Regions from separate parts of the Homo sapiens genome. Here region 2 is linked to region 1. The links come from fine-mapping of genetic effects on gene expression. A gene starts in region 1. The other region holds a variant in brackets. All regions are shown on one strand. Distances are from middle to middle. Region 1 holds the start of MMP21 (matrix metallopeptidase 21). Region 2 overlaps CTBP2 (C-terminal binding protein 2).

The links. PIP is the estimated chance that this variant, and not a neighbour inherited with it, causes the effect. A credible set is the group of variants that fine-mapping cannot tell apart.
Region 2: its variant is the best candidate, but not a certain one, in a credible set for the expression of MMP21 in tibial artery (GTEx, PIP 0.51).

The regions. Positions count from the first base shown.
Region 1 is chr10:125,774,595-125,777,384 of GRCh38, reverse strand. MMP21 (matrix metallopeptidase 21) reads left to right here and starts at 1,564. Exons shown (of 7, transcript NM_147191.1): 1 at 1,564-1,725. The coding sequence starts at 1,564.
Region 2 is chr10:125,148,762-125,151,551 of GRCh38, reverse strand. All of the region lies in intron 1 of CTBP2 (C-terminal binding protein 2), which reads left to right. Among named protein-coding and RNA genes, the nearest start is that of CTBP2, 10 kb to the left of the region's middle. RefSeq lists enhancers at 1-73, 1,958-2,252. The variant C/G (reference allele first, on the strand shown) is at 1,329.

The DNA.
Region 1 (2,790 bases):
GAGGGAAGAGAAATCACAGAGAATAGGAGGGTGGTCTTAGAGTTCAGGCCTGCAAGTGGCACACATCACTCTATCCACTTTTTTTTTCCTTTTGAAACAGGGTCTCATTCTGTCATCCAAGTTGTTGTGCAGTGACGTGATCTCGGCTCATTTCAGTCTTAACCTCCTGGACACAAGTGATCCTCCAGCCTCAGCTCCCCTAAGTAGCTGGAACTATTGGCACGCATGCCACTACACCTGGCTAATTTTTGTATTTTTAGTAGAGATGGGGTTTCATCATGTTGCCCAGGCTGGTCTTGAACTCTTGCTGGTCTTGAACTCCTGGATTCAAGCAATCCACCCACCTTGGTTTCCTAAAGTGTTGGGATTATAGGTGTGAGCCACCACGCCCGGCCGATGCCAAGCTAATTTTTAAACATTTTTTGATAGAAATGAGGTCTCATTTTGTTGCCCTTGCTTGTCTCAAACTCCTGGCCTCAGTCCTCCTGCCTCAGCCTCCCGCAACGCTGGGATTATGGGTCTGAGCCACTGCACCTGGCCTCTCCGTATTTCTATGATTCTCAATATTCCCATGGACGGCTGTGACCCAGTCAGTCTGCACTCTCAGGAGGACATCTGCTCAGATAAAAGCCCAGTTCAGGGGCTCTGTCTTCAGGATCCCAAAGAAACTTGAGGCTTCTCCATGAGGGGAAAAAGTAGTGGGCTGAGGTGATTCTAGTTTATCCTTCTATAAAAATCTTTACCCACAGAATGGGACGCTGTGCAGTCATTAACTAGAACGATAAATACTTACATTCAGAAACAGAAAAGTGCCTGTAACGTTGTGCTGGCTTGTAAGAACAGAGAATAGAGTTCATGTAAAATGAGAGACACACACAAATACTTCTCTAGGCATCTGTGCATATGTATCTGCAAGAATGTTCACTGAAATGTCACCACCGGAATCACAGAATGTCTCCTTCATTCTCAGTACTTTTACAATTTATACTATCTGCTCAGAAGATCTCCTTTATATAAAGATAAACAAAAAGAAGAAAAGCCACACAAAAAATGTGTGAGAAACAAACTAAAAATCTCCAAACCCCAGTTCACCAAGAAAAAAAAAGTGACCCAAACTGTAAGCAAACTAACGGTCAGGGTTTTTAAACTCAGGCTCAGCTCTGAGAGGCATGTTGTTAGGGGCGCAGTCTCGTGCCTCTGTTAATTCCACAGCTCATTTAGCGGCAAACTTGCCCGCAGTATATCTCCATAGAAATGGAACCCACAGGCACTGGCAACTGGAGGATGTAATTATCGGAGGACATGGCAAACTCTGGAGGCTGAGAGAAGGAGTTCTCACACCAACAAGAAAGGTGAGCCTGGGGTCTTCAAAGGCAGCACGCCCAGGGCCTGCCACGTGGCCTCCTAGCGGGCACACTTCAGGGCTGGGTGAGAAATGCTTGGAAACCTGGGTGCTCCCTCCTGCGTAGCTTATAAAAGCCACCCTAGGTCCTGCTCCTTAAGGAGAGGTGACGGGGACGGGGAAGAAGCCAGGCAGGGAGGGCAAGGGTTCAGACCAGGCCAATGCTCGCCGCCTCCATCTTCCGTCCGACACTGCTGCTCTGCTGGCTGGCTGCTCCCTGGCCCACCCAGCCCGAGAGTCTCTTCCACAGCCGGGACCGCTCGGACCTGGAGCCGTCCCCACTGCGCCAGGCCAAGCCCATTGCCGACCTCCACGCTGCTCAGGTAGGAGGAAGCTGGAAGAACAGCAATACCCCCAGGCCCGTGCACGTGCACACAGGCACATGCGCACGCGCGCACAGGCACAGGCCAGGATGCCGGCTGTGCAGAGGCAGAGAAGGGCCAGGCAGGCTGGGCTGAGAGGGAGGAGTGGCTCCTGTGGCTCCTATTGGAACAACCATGAATCGATGCTTAACCTGATTCGACAATCCCACAGGTCAGCCCTAGTGAGAAAGAAATGTCAGTGCGCAGACAACAGACTCAAATGCCAAGTGCCTTTCCAAAGGCAAGCATGTGATACTGTAGTGGCCAAGGCACTGTCCGAAGGCATTCTGTGGCTGCTCACCATGCCAATCTCTGGATGTAGAGAAGGGGACAGCCCTGCAAGGTTCCCCAACACCGCAATAGTAAGGATCCTAACAGCTGTCTGGGGTGGCATCCGTGGACTTCACCGGAGTCTGTGGTGAAGCACCCAGGAGGTCCAATGCAGGCGATCCCCTCCTCCAGAGAGTCGTGGTGGCGGGCAGGGAGTGGACCCATGAGGCCCCTTCACCTGCTCTGGCACGTGGTCCTTTGGTCACCATAGGCCAGGAGCTGATGCTCAGGGTCAAGTCCAATCCCCAGCTCCCACAGTGCCCCAGAGGCCAGGGCAGGGAGCAGGAGAGCCGCCCTGTGGCCAGGCCCGCAGCCGCGTGGAGGCCGCTGACCTCCCTCCCGCTGTGCGGCCATGAGGAAGCCCCCCAGGTCCTCAGACCCAACCACTGCCAAGCCCCTCAGTTCCAATTCCCAGCTCTCAGGACGTGCCTCCCATGGCTTTCTCTGCGGTGTGGCCACGCCCGGACTTCCTTGGCACCCCCCACCTGCCCCGCACGACCTGCCCTGCGCGACCTGCCCCGCAAGGCCGGGGGGAGCGTCTTCCTCCCCCGCGACCTCTTACCTCCTCCCGGCACTCGCCCACCCCGCTGCCCAGGTCTCCTGCTCCTCCGGCCCTAGGGCGCCTCTGACTCAGCCTGGTGCCCATCCAGGGCCCGCACTCAGGAAGGCGCCCAGGACTCGCTCCTTCTCTCCTGT
Region 2 (2,790 bases), 630 kb after region 1:
GGCATCATTTCCACTTGACCGGCTTGGGATCTCGTCTCCTGGGCAGTGTTTGGGGGTGACCACGGTTCTTGGATAACCTTCGAATCTGGGTGTTTTCCTTGTAGTACAAATAGCGCAGTGGCAGTTGCTGTGGGAAACAGCGAGGGCCACTGAGACCTTCAGCAGAACTCCACGTCGAGGACGAGTGACATTTGCGCGCCTCTGCTGCGTTCTCTGCTGTTCACCCCGGCGGCTCCCAACACCTGAAGCCTGGCGAGGCATGTGACTAGAGGTTGTCCGAGCGCAGAGTGGTAGGACGGTGCGATCTGGCCCGTTTCGTCTTGCCCTCGTCTTCTCCATGGAGGAATTTCTGTGTTCGCCTCTATGTTTTGCAGACTTAATTTGGTGCTCCAGAAACTTATGCAGCCATTCAAGTGCGCTCTACCTGTTATTCAAGTAACTAGAGAGCAACCATTTCTTGAGCACTTACTTAGTGTCTGGCACTAGCTCGCTGGGCCATTGTGTGTTGTTGCGTTGCCCTGACTCTTCATTGGTAAAACAGTGACTAACTATCACCTGTGCCTCTGCGAGGACAGCGCTGTGCTTGGCCAGGGCTGGAGAGCCGATCTCAAGGCAGGTGTCTGGCCTTTTCCTGGACATAGTGAGTCTGTGATCCAGAGTCTGACCCACGTATTCAACGGGGCCTGCCTCAGGCTTCCAAACAGGAGCCAGGCTGTTGTGAATATTCACTCCAAAAGTGCAGTGAATGTAAAACATCCTAGAGCAGGAAGTGAGGCAGGCCCCGTTGAATACGTGGGTCAGACTCTGGATCACAGACTCACTATGTCCGGGAAAAGGCCAGACACCTGCCTTGAGATCGGCTCTCCAGCCCTGGCCAAGCACAGCGCTGTCCTCGCAGAGGCACAGGTGATAGTTAGTCACTGTTTTACCAATGAAGAGTCAGGGCCAGGGAGCTTAGGTAATTAAGTCTGGCTAGTTACTACCAACTTCGCCTGGCTCTGGCTTCTCTGTGGCTGACCGAGGCTTCTTGTGGCCTTTGACTGGGACACGGGAATGTCTGGGGATGGCTTTGCCACACTAACCAAGACTAGACTCCTTCTTTCCTCCCAAGCTGTTTCTCCCTTGCCCTCATCTGTGTGTCTCTGATGCAGCACCACCCCACACTCCAAGAATGCATGGGCACACTCTCCTGGGGTTATGTGTGTAGCTTTCACAGTGCTTAGGGTTTCATGTGGTAAAATTGGATTTAGTGGCCAGGTATCATTTCATCAATAGGTAAGACCATGTTTGTGGTCTGGGATAGTGTGATCTCAGTTGCCCTCCACCCC[C/G]CATCTCCCTCGAGGGAGGGCTTGGGTCCATGGGATGCACCCCTCCCCAACTCTGGTTGCCTCTGGCATTCAACTGGAGCCATGTGCACACCTGAAATAGGATCTGGTTTGTGGGTTCCACGTTGGGGAGTTGGGGGTCAAGAGACAGGGAAGATGCTTAGGATTTCTCCTAACTGTGATAGTCTGTTTGCACCACTCCTGTGAAAACCAGGGAGAAACTAGGTTTTGCCGGGTGAACTTCCTTTGGGTCGCTCCCCTGCATCCGTGTGGTGTGGGCCTTAGAAAGGAATTTGAATTAATACTCCTGAACAAAGGGAACAGCCTTCTTTTCAAAGAGGCTATCAGAGAACTGACAGGGAATGGCACAGAGTTGGGTGTGTCTTCAAATCCAGAGACCAGCCCCGCTCCACCGGAAGAGTACCCGGAGCAGGTGATGCGGGAGCTCCCAGGTTGACCTTGGCTTTCCATAGAGGGTAAGGTCCCCACAAGGTGAAGGTTTTCCTGAAAAACAGGCTTTTCTTTATAAGATTACCTTCCTATTCTACAACCCTTCTCTTCTTTTTGTGAACACGTGTGTACACTTGTGAGCACATGTGTATTCTGGAAATCCTTGGTTTCCGCTGGGGCTCTGGTGGGGCCGGGGGTGGTGTGGATGTTGGGTGCCCCCCGCCTCCATCTTGGCCTTTGGATTCTGCTCTGTCTTGTGGATGACTCAAGGAAGTGCTGGGAGGAGTCTCTTGACAAATCAGTCATGTGAGTCCCGGTGTCCTGGCTCACCTCCAGCTTGGGTATGAATAGAGTCAGCCCATTTTAAGTGCCCCCTGCAGTTTTTAAACAGGTCTCCTTCCACTTCACTCCACCTGGAAGAGGGTGGTGGGGCCAGGATCATCCCTGGGCCAGCCCTCTCCTTTCTGTGGTGCCTCACTGGGACACTGAGAAGGGGGAAGCTGCTTTCTCAGAGGCTGTTGCTTGGAAAGTGGCATCTAAGCATGAGAATGACTGCGGCGTGCAGGTTCCCATGAATGGTCATTTCCTGTGAGCCGGGCCTTGTGAGTGGTCTTCCAGAGCCCATGTCGTGTCTATGGTGTGTCCCCTGTCCTGTTCCAGGTTTCAGGGATCCTTTGCGCTGGGCAGAAGATCCACTGAGCTGGCATCCAGGTTCCTCCAGCAGAACACGGCGCAGTGGTGGACCTGCCGCAGCTCTGAGGCCAGCGAGCCAGTTTTCCCCAGCACCCTGTTTCCCAGCCCTAGCATCTTCAGAGTGTCCATTCTCCTCGCTCCTCCACGGCGCATGCTTTTCACTCAGGGTTGAGGATTCTTTTTCCTCCACTTGCACACATCCTTCTCATTTCTCAGCTAAGCCTGGGATTAAGAATGAGGCTTCAAGTGACAAAAGCCAGGAGATTTCACAATTAAAGTTGGAATTGTGTCTGCAGTGATGTCTTCCTCAGCATTTAAGGAA